Linked DNA regions of Homo sapiens: region 1 is linked to region 2. The links come from fine-mapping of genetic effects on gene expression. A gene starts in region 2. The other region holds a variant in brackets. All regions are shown on one strand. Distances are between the middles of the regions.

The links. PIP is the estimated chance that this variant, and not a neighbour inherited with it, causes the effect. A credible set is the group of variants that fine-mapping cannot tell apart.
Region 1: its variant is the best candidate, but not a certain one, in a credible set for the expression of MIEN1 in whole blood (INTERVAL, PIP 0.52).

The regions. Positions count from the first base shown.
Region 1 is chr17:39,693,800-39,699,169 of GRCh38, reverse strand. It overlaps a transcript of ERBB2 not described here. Among named protein-coding and RNA genes, the nearest start is that of ERBB2, 3.6 kb to the left of the region's middle. RefSeq lists a silencer at 2,720-3,014. The variant G/A (reference allele first, on the strand shown) is at 2,326.
Region 2 is chr17:39,727,906-39,733,275 of GRCh38, reverse strand. It overlaps MIEN1 (migration and invasion enhancer 1), which reads left to right and starts at 2,744. Exons shown (of 4, transcript NM_032339.5): 1 at 2,744-2,869; 2 at 2,985-3,082; 3 at 3,515-3,591; 4 at 3,671-4,766. The coding sequence starts at 2,781. The coding sequence ends at 3,754. It overlaps ERBB2 (erb-b2 receptor tyrosine kinase 2), which reads right to left. Exons shown (of 27, transcript NM_004448.4): 27 at 4,618-5,370. The coding sequence ends at 5,232. RefSeq lists a silencer at 2,503-3,062.

The DNA.
Region 1 (5,370 bases), 34 kb after region 2:
CTTCTATCTCAATTCTTCAAAATGCACCCTTCTTGCTTATTTAAGGAGGCACCCAGCACCCAATGCATTCAAGGTTTCTTCTTTGCCCCTTGCCTTCTATTAGCCTGCTTAATTCCACTTCTCAACCACATTCTATTTGGAGCCCCTGACCCTATTCCTTAGGCCTAGTGGTAGGGGTGGGGATGGAAGGAAGACTTTTTTTTTTTTTTTTAATTTCAACAAGATATTGCATGGGACATATTTATACTAACAAATTATTCATTGTTTATCTGAAATTCAAATTTAACTGGGCCTCCTTATTTTTATGTGCTAAATTTGGCAGTTCTAGTTGGAATGCCCCAGCCAAGAATGCAGCTATACTGGTCAAGAAGGGATCAAAGGCACCTATCAGGGACTGGAGAATGAAGGACACCAGCATCTCTTTCTCTCTTCCCTCCCCCCCATCTCCCACACCTCTTTACAGGTATACACTTGCATTTCTAAACTTGCTTCCATGTGCTGAGCACACTTAAAGCAGGCACCTCTTGTGGGACAGGTTGCTATGCCATCCTAGGGAGTTGAGAAACAGGGGCCTCTGGGACCAAGAGGACCTGGGTTCAAATCTTGAATCTGGCCAGTCGCGGTGGCTCACACCTGTAATTCCAGCACTTTGGGAGGCCGAGGCAGGCAGATCACGAGGTCAGGAGATCGAGACCATCCTGGCTAACACGGTGAAACCCTGTCTCTGCTAAAAATACAAAAAATTAGCCAGGTGTGGTGGCGGGTGCCTGTAGTCCCAGCTACTCAGGAGGCTGAGGCAGGAGAATGGCGTGAACCTGGGAGGCAGAGCTTGCAGTGAGCTGAGATTGCGCCTCTGCACTCCAGCCTGGGAGACAGAGTGAGACTCCGTGTCAAAAAAAAAAAAAAAAATCTTGACTCTATTCCATATCAGTCATGTCACCTTGGGCAAGTGACTGAGCATCTCTGGTCTCAGTTGGCTCATCTGTAAAACAGCATCTGACATACTATGCTGGGGTTAAAGGAGATAATGCTCTGGAAGCACTCAGCGCAATACTTGGCACATAATAATTGCTCAATAAATGGTCCCAGATTTAGTTATACTGGGGCAGATCTAGGTTTTGTGGGGCCTGAAGCTTATATAATTTGGGAAACTCTCTTTAAGAAAGTAATACAAAGTTGGCCGAGTATGGCGGCTCATGCCTGTAATCCCAGCACTTTGGGAGGCCAAGACAGGCAGATCACGAGGTCAGGAGTTCGAGACCAGCCTGGCCAACATGACAAAACCCCATCTCTACTAAAAGTACAAAAATTAACTAGGTGTGGTGGCAGGCACCTGTAATCCCAGCTACTCGGGAGGCTGAGGCAGGAGAATTGCTTGAACTCAGAGGGCAGAGGTTGCAGTGAGCTGAGATCTTGCCACTGCACTCCAGCCTGGGTGACAGAGTAAGACTCCATTGAAAGAAAGAAAGAGAGCAAGAGAGAGAAAGGAATTGAACAGAAAAAGACCCTAGCACGGCTGGGTGCGGTGGCTCATGCCTGTAATTGCAGCACTTTGGGAGGCCAAGGCAGGTGGATCACCTGAGGTCGGGAGTTTGGTACCAGCCTGACCAACATGGAGAAACCCTGTCTCTACTAAAAACACAAAATTAGCCGGGCATGGTGGCGCATGCCTGTAATCCCAGCTACTCGGGAAGGCTGAGGCAGGTGAATCGCTTGAACCTGGGAAGCGGAGGTTGCGGTGAGCCAAGATCGCGCCATTGTACTCCAGCCTGGGCAACAAGAGCGAAACTCTGTCTCAAAAAAAAAAAAAAAAAACAAAACAAAAAAACAACCCTAGCACATTCATATAGTAAGGATAAGGTGGAGTTTTGTACAGGTATCCAGAGTGATAATGTAAAATTAACTTATTCCTTGGACCGCTGTCACAAACATTCGAGAAATATTGCTGTGTATGGAACACAGCAGCCCTTCTGGATGGCCATCAATATCCCTATTTTCTCTTGAGCTGGTGTTAGGGTTAGGGTGAGGATCAGGGGAACTGAGGTAAGCAATTTGCCCAGGATGTCTTAGGGCTAGAGAGAAAAGTTGGGCATGTATCAAAACTGACCCCTTACTCTCACCCCATCATCCAGCCCAGGACCTGGTCAACCTGCCTCTCAGTCCTGCAGCTTACAGCCCTGCGGGAAGAGGATGCGCTGACCTGGCTCCAGGAGTCACTGGTTCATCACACCACACCTTGGAGGGCTTGCACCTGGATGAGTGTGCAGGCAGCCTTAGAGGCCATCGGGATGTTAGGATCAGGGTTAGAGGTGTCCTTTCTCCCCA[G/A]GCCCCACCCCTGCCCTGCTGTTGTGTCCGGAAAGGTTAGTCCAGTCAGGAAAGCTACTGTGGACGCCATGCTTCATTGGACCCTACTCTGTGCCACTCTGACCTACAGCCACGTTCCTCAGAACACTGAGTCCCCAAGACTCCAGAGGAGGCAGGTGTTATCATTCCCCATTTTGCAGAAGAGGAACCTTGAGCCTTGAGATTCCACGAGCTAAAGGAACTTTCCCAAGGTCACAGAGCTGAGCTGGGAACTGAGCCATGGCAGATTTGGCTTCACCCATTACCCTCAAGAGCCCCAGTCAAGGGTACCAAGAGGGGAGACAGAGGAAAGAAGTCCAGGTAACTGTAGGTCCCTCCCTCTACAAAGATCCTGCTTCCCCCCTTCACTCTCCACCCCCCCGCCCAAGCAAACCCATCCTCTCTGCATCCCAAATCCCAGGAAGAAACCCGGACTGGCAGACAATGCCCAGTCCCGGTGGGCGGTAGAGAGGGTGGAGCAAGCTGGAGAGGGGGCTGGAGTGGGGATGGGGGGAGGAGCTGGGGTCAGAACTCACGCCCTGGGGAGGAGGCTCGAGAGGGGCCGAGCCTCTGAAAAAGAATGAGCCCATTCAGAGCTGGGAAGCCAGAGGAAAAAACCTCGTCTGGTGTCTGACAAGAGGAGAGGAAGGGGGGCAGGGGTGGGCGCTGCTGATTCGATTTCCTCCTTAACTGTCCCTCCAGCAGGGCCTGGCAGGAGAGCCCAGGAAAGAGGATGTCTGAGGGACAAAGACAGCGAGGGGGACCCTCAGGGAAGGGAAAGGGGTGCTGGTGAGAGGGGTCTAGCTAGGGGGCTGGGGAGAGGGAGTGGGAACAGAGTGGGGCTGACTGCGGGACAGAGGGCAGCAAACTCAGATCAGGGCAGATGCGTGTGTTTTGCCCAAGACCCCAGCCTGTGGGCAGTGGAGTGACCACTGACACTGAAGAGGCAGGACAGGGCTCTAGCTTCCGAGGGTGACCTCTAAGTCAACAGGCTGGGGCTGCAACCAGCGGCCTGTGAAATGCCAGTCAATCATTGACCAGCCATGGAGACTGGGGGGCACAGGAGACGTGTGTGTGTGTGTGTGTGTGTGTGTGTGTGTGTGTGTGTGTGTGTGTGTGTGTATGCATGCACCAAAGTCTCCTCCCTCTACCTACTTCACCAGCCAGCTTGGGGTCAGAGGACTGAAAACAAACAGAAATCGGGAGGAGTCGTCTGGTCCACAGTCCGATGTCCAGGCCACAAACTGAGGCCTACCCCACAGTGCCTTGAGGCTGAGGCACAGGTTGCTGGGGAAGTGACTGTAGGAATTAGTTCATTGGAAAGAGTTCCTCAGAGTAGGCTTGAGGTGTCCCTTTGGGCCAAAGGAGGATAACTTAGAAGCTTCTGATAGGAAAATTGGTCCTTCCTAGGGGTGGCCCTTGATGAGCACTTGTATCCTAACCATGGGGAGGCCACTCCCTGAGCCCAGGATTAGCCCTAGTCTCCAGGACAGCAAAGGGGCAGAGCCAAGCTTGCCAGACACTCTGACCCTGGGCCCCTCTTACCCACATCTCAGGAATGCAGGCCCAGGCCCCAGGAGTAGCTTTTATCTCTCCCCAGGCTGCTCTGCTGAAACAAAAAGCACTCTTCTGTCCTGCGACTCACCTCACTTTTGTGCATGTCCACAACAGTACATGTCACTCTCATCACTGCCTGCGCAGGCATGGCTGCCAGGGTCTGAGTCTCTGTGCTGCACTGCGTTTGTCCTGGCCATTCTACTGGTGCCCCCGTTTTATCTGTGACTCTTTGCTCAGGGAGTAGCTTTGCATGTGGTCTTGAATATAGCTTTGCTTTGCCACCTGAAATAGAAGAGTTGGACAGAATGGTTCCTGGTCACAATATTTTCGGATTTGGTATAGGGACAGTGACCCCTTCAACCCCCATACTTGTCCCTTGAAAGCCCCACTGAGCCATCCTTCTCCTGGATTCTGGATTCCTTGTTTCAGGAGCACTAAGTCTTCCTGCCCGCTTCATTCCACTGATCCACTGGGCCTTTCAGGACATCACTTGCTCACTCGACTTGCTGCTGGAGGTATAGACCACTGGGGTATGAATGAGGGCATTCTTGCCTCTGACTTTTGGTCCAAGGAAGAGGAGACGAGGAACCTTTGAGAAGCATACAACTATGGCAATCACAAAGTCTTGATTTCAGGGGACAATTCGTTTCTGATGGTTTCATTCACTGAACCCACCTGGTTGATTCTTCTCTTCCTTTGCCCTTCAAATCCAATCATTCTTTAAGATCTATCAACTCCTCTTTTTGATACATTTATGCTTATTCTACCTCCATCACCAGCTAGTCTGAGTCTCTATCATTTCTCCTTTGGGCTAAAGCACCAGACTTTGATCACTACCCCTCCACCAGTGCTACTTTTGACACCCTGCAATTCTCCCCGCAGCAACAGCAGCCAAAGTAAATGTTTTATTATTATTTATTTTATTTTATATATACACATATATATGTGTGTGTGTATATATATATACACATATATATGTGTATATATATATATATACACACATATATATATATATATATATATATATATATATATATATATATTTTTTTTTTTTTTTTTTTTTTTTTTTTTTTTTTCTGAGACAGAGTCTCACTGTCACCCAGGCTGGAGCGCAGTGGCATGATGTCGGCTCACTGCAACCTCCGTGTCCCGGATTCGAGTGATTCTCCTGCCTCAGCCTTCCGAGTAGCTGGTATTACTGGGATTATAGCATGCACCACCACATCCAGCTAATTTTTGTATTTTTGATAGAGGCAGCGTTTCTCCGTGTTGGCCAGGCTGGTCTCAAACTCCTGACCTCAGGTGATCTGCCCACCTCGGCCTCCCAAAGTGCTGGGATTATGGGCATGAGCCACTGTGCCCGGCCTATTTATTTTTTAATTGAGACTCCTGACCTCAGGTGATCTGTCCACCTTGGCCTCCCAAAGTGCTGGGATTACAGGCATGAGCCACCACACCCAGCCCTATTAT
Region 2 (5,370 bases):
GAGACAAATCCTCATATATTGCTGGTGGGAAAACTTTGAAAAACAGTCTGGCCATTTCTTAAAATGTTAAATGCTAGCCTGGGCAAAATGGCAAAACCTTGTCTCTACAAAAAATACAAAAAAAAATTAGCTGGGCATGGTGGTGCGTGTCTGTCGTCCCAGCTATTCAGGAGGCTGAGGCAAGAGGATAGCTTGAGTTTAGCAGGTCGAGGCTGCAGTGAGCCATGTTTGCACTGCTGCATTCCAGCGTGGGCAACAGAGCGAGACCCTGTCTCAAAAAAAAAAAAGATAATCATAAATTAAACACAGGACCCAGCAGTTCTACCCTTAGGAATCTACCCAAGAGAAATGAAAACACACACCTATACAAAGACACCTAAACATTTGTAGCAGCATTATTCAAAAAAGACAAAAAAAACTGGAACCCTAAATATCCATCAGCTGGTGAATTAAGAAAAAAATGTGGCATAACCACACAGTGGAATACGACTCAGCAATGAAAAGGAACAAACTACTCTAGACGCTACAGGATGAACGCATTTCAAAAAACATATTGAATGAAAGAACCAGAAGCAAAAGGCCACATAGTGTATTATTCTGTTTATATGAAACATCCAGAAAAGGCAAAGTTAGAGACAGAAAGCAGATCAGTGGTTGCACAGGACTGGAATTGGGAGCTGGATTGACCAGAAACAGGTGGGAAGGACTTATCAGGTTGACGGAAACATTCTGTAACTGGATTGTAGTGATGGTTAGGCAACAGTACAAATCACTGCATTTTCTTTCTTTTCTTTTCTTTTCTTTTTTTTTTGGAACACAGTCTCACTCTGTCACCCAGGCTGGAGTGCAGTGGTGAGATCTCAGCTCACTGCAACCTCCACCTCCCAGGTTCAAGCGATTCTCCTGCCTCAGCCTCTGGAGTAGCTGGTGCGCCACCACACCCAGCTAATTTTTGTATTTTTAGTAGAGACAGGGTTTTGTCGAGTTGGCCAGGCTGGTCTTGAACTCCTGGCGTCAAGTGATCCGCCCACCTTGGCCTCCCAAAACGCTGGGATTACAGGTGTGAGCCACTACGACCTGCCTGGTTTAAAAAAAAAAAAAATGAGCCCGGGTGCAGTGGTTCACACCTGTAATCCCAGCACTTTGGGAGGCCAAGATGGGCAGATCACAACTTCAGGAGTTCGAGACCAGCCTGGCCAACATGGTGAAACCCCATCTGTACTAAAAATAGAAAAATTAGCTGGCTTGGTGGTGGGCACCTGTAATCCCAGCTGCTCAGGAGGCTGAGACAGGAGACTCACTTGAGGCCGGAAGGCAGAGGTTGCAGTAAGCCGAGATCGCACCATTGCACTCCAGCCTGGCCAACAGAGCAAGACTCTGTCTCAAAAAAATAATAATAATAGTAATACAAAAGTTAGCTGGGCGTGGTGGCTGGCACCTATGATCTCAGCTACTAGGGAGACTGAGGCAGGAGAATCGCCTGAACCCAGGAGGTGGAGGTTGCAGTGAGCCAAGATCGCGCCACTGCACTCAAGCTTGGGTGACAGAGTGAGACTCCATCTCAAAATAAATAAATAAATAAATAAATAGCCTAAAGGGACACTAGAGTGGGTGGCGTGTTAGGATACCATAGTGGTACTGTAGGCAGGGAAAAGGCAGCGAGGACTTGTGCAGACTCCATTTCCAGAGCTGCAAAATGGGAATAATGACGCCAGCCCCCCAGTGAGAGGCTGGATGAGAAGGGATGCGCAGAAACTGTTGGGGGCACAGAGCCTGAAGAGCATCTACTGTTTTCCAGTGCAGGCAAGAAGCAGCTGCAAAAGACTGGAAAAAGCAGTTTAGAGCTTTGGGATCAGAAACACTTGTGTATGTAACTACAGGGTGGTTCCAAATGCCATCAGCACCGGGCGTGGTGGCTCACGCCTGTAATCCCAGCACTTTGGGAGGCCAAGGCAGGCAGATCATTTGAGGTCAGGAGTTCGAGACCAGTCTGGCGAACATGGTGAAACCCTGTCTCTACTAAAACAAACAAACAAACAAACAAAAAACTGGGCCAGGCGCGGTGGCTCATGTCTGTAATTCCAGCACTTTAGGAGGCCGAGGCTGGTGGATCACCTGAGGTCAAGAGTTCGAGACCAGCCTGACCAACATGATGAAACCCTGTCTCTACTAAGAATACAAAATTAACCGGGTGCGGTGGCACGCGCCTGTAGTCCCAGCTACTCGGGAAGCTGAGGCAGAAGAATCGCTTGAACCCGGGAGGCAGAGGTTGCAGTGAACCGAGATCGCGCCATTGCACTCCAGCCTGGGCAACAAGAGCGAAACTCCGTCTCAAAAAAAAAAAAAAAAAAAATGCCATCGGCATGTTAGCGAGAAAATGTCAACTATTTCATGCATCAGCCACACCCACCCCCATCCCCAGGATGCTTGCCCCACCACTTTCTCTTTCTTTTGTAAACTGAAAAGCGCTTTGCAGTCTAAGATAGTCCATTAGAGTAAATGAAGCCATGAAGTCCAGCGGACACCGGGAGTGGGGAGTGGGGAAGCCCGGCACTCCGGGAGACCGGGCCAGGGAAGGAGGGTCTGGACCGGACCCAGCCCCTGCCCGGGGAGCGAGCTCCGGAGCTGCCCTACGAGGTCAAAACGTAGCAGTGGCGGAGACCCGCAGGGGGCGCCCGAACGCCACCCTCGGCCCCTCCCCGCTCCAGAGGCCCCGCCCCGTCACGTGCCCGCGGTTCGCGTCACACCCGGAAGCAGGGGCCCGAGCGGAGCCGGCCGCGATGAGCGGGGAGCCGGGGCAGACGTCCGTAGCGCCCCCTCCCGAGGAGGTCGAGCCGGGCAGTGGGGTCCGCATCGTGGTGGAGTACTGGTGAGCGGCCCCGGCTGGAGGACCCGCACCCTGGTCCCGCGGGCCGGACGGAGGTGGGTCCACGGGAGGCCCCACCCCCGAATCCCCAGCCCAGCCCCATCTCTTGACTCCCCAGTGAACCCTGCGGCTTCGAGGCGACCTACCTGGAGCTGGCCAGTGCTGTGAAGGAGCAGTATCCGGGCATCGAGATCGAGTCGCGCCTCGGGGGCACAGGTGAGGCTCGCAGAACACCTGCTGGGTCAGTCTGTGCTCTGAATCCCAGCTCTCCCGCTTTCTAGTTCTGACATTGGCTGCTTTATGTAAAGTGCCCGCAGTGCCTGGCACATGGTAAAATGTCCGGCCAACATGAGTTCCCTTCCATAGGTCAGGGGGTGTCACAGAGGCCTGTGGGGAAAAACCTATTAGACTGCAATCGTGTAGGGTTGGAGGGGAGGGAGTCCTTTATTGAGTGTTGCGAGGGGCACACAGGCGAGGCCTCCCTCAGGTTCCCTGGAGTTGACCCAGGGTTGGGGAATTGCTTAAGGAGCTACAAATGGGTCTCCAGTGGGATTGATGGGGGACTTGAAGGCGGGGGACCCCTTTGGAGGAACTCCTGACTTCTGCCTATGTTCTCAGTGTACCATTTATCTGTTGATTTCTTACCAGGTGCCTTTGAGATAGAGATAAATGGACAGCTGGTGTTCTCCAAGCTGGAGAATGGGGGCTTTCCCTATGAGAAAGATGTGAGTATTTACAGCGTTGGGAGGACCTCTTGGTCACCCTACCCCAACAGTGCATCATCCTGTCATTCCACTCCTCTAGCTCATTGAGGCCATCCGAAGAGCCAGTAATGGAGAAACCCTAGAAAAGATCACCAACAGCCGTCCTCCCTGCGTCATCCTGTGACTGCACAGGACTCTGGGTTCCTGCTCTGTTCTGGGGTCCAAACCTTGGTCTCCCTTTGGTCCTGCTGGGAGCTCCCCCTGCCTCTTTCCCCTACTTAGCTCCTTAGCAAAGAGACCCTGGCCTCCACTTTGCCCTTTGGGTACAAAGAAGGAATAGAAGATTCCGTGGCCTTGGGGGCAGGAGAGAGACACTCTCCATGAACACTTCTCCAGCCACCTCATACCCCCTTCCCAGGGTAAGTGCCCACGAAAGCCCAGTCCACTCTTCGCCTCGGTAATACCTGTCTGATGCCACAGATTTTATTTATTCTCCCCTAACCCAGGGCAATGTCAGCTATTGGCAGTAAAGTGGCGCTACAAACACTAATGCTAACTAGTGTGTGTTTTTATACGTCCAGTCTGGGAATGTGGGGGGCACAGAAGTCCGGTCAGCCCAGCCTTTGCACCGCCAGGGTGGCTGTGCTGGCTGGGTGGGCTTTCTGGACAGCTACTCCTTAGGTCAGTGAGCTCCTCTGGCATAGCCAAGGCAAGGAAAATGAGTCCCACAGTAGACCCTGCCTCGTCTTTCCCCCACCCTACCCACCACTCTCCTCACTCACAAGGAGGAAATAACCCCATTCTGGTGAGTGGCCTTAGGAATTAGTTCGTTCTAAATAAGAATGATCTGGTCGTCAAAGGGCTCTCAGATCTGAATCCAGCTTCCCGATCTCCCCCAACCCTGAAGCTGGAGAACTGGATGTCTGGCTCCTCATCCAAGCTTTCTGAAGATTCCCAGCCACTCCCTCCAGGAAAAGAGGAATTGAGTGTAAGGTGAGCAGGAAGGGATGGCACAGAGCCACCCCCAGACATAGGCCGGTGCCTAGCTGTTTTCCAAAATATATTTGCAAATGGACAAAGTGGGTGTGGAGAAGGACCCCCCACACTTGCCTCCCCATACAACACCCATTCTCCCCCTGGGTCTTTATTTCATCTTTAAAAAAACAAAACAAAAAAAGTAAAAACTAAACAGAAAAGCACTCTGTACAAAGCCTGGATACTGACACCATTGCTGTTCCTTCCTCATGGGGGGCAGTACTAGGTTTCAGGGACAGTCTCTGAATGGGTCGCTTTTGTTCTTAGACACTCCCTTAGGGCCGCTTCCCCTCTCAGGCCAGCTTCCCTAAGGCTTTCAGTACCCAGGATCTGGAAGGAAAGGGCCAAGCTGGGCTGTGGCATCCACTGGACCCTAGAGTCTCATTGGGCAGGGCCTCAGAATCCACAAAGACTCCCCAGTGCTGTTCCTCTTCCAACGAGGCTGGACCCCTTCCAGCCATCTGGGAACTCAAGCAGGAAGGAAGGTTCCTTAGGACAGGTTCCTGGCATGGCAGGTTCCCCTGGAAGTGGTCGGAGGGCCCTCCCACCTCTTGATGCCAGCAGAAGTCAGGCCTTCCCTGCTCCCTGAGGACACATCAGGGCTTCTGCGGACTTGGCCTTCTGGTTCACACTGGCACGTCCAGACCCAGGTACTCTGGGTTCTCTGCCGTAGGTGTCCCTTTGAAGGTGCTGGGTGGAGCCCCCCGCTCTGGTGGGTCCTGGTCCCAGTAATAGAGGTTGTCGAAGGCTGGGCTGAAGGCAGGA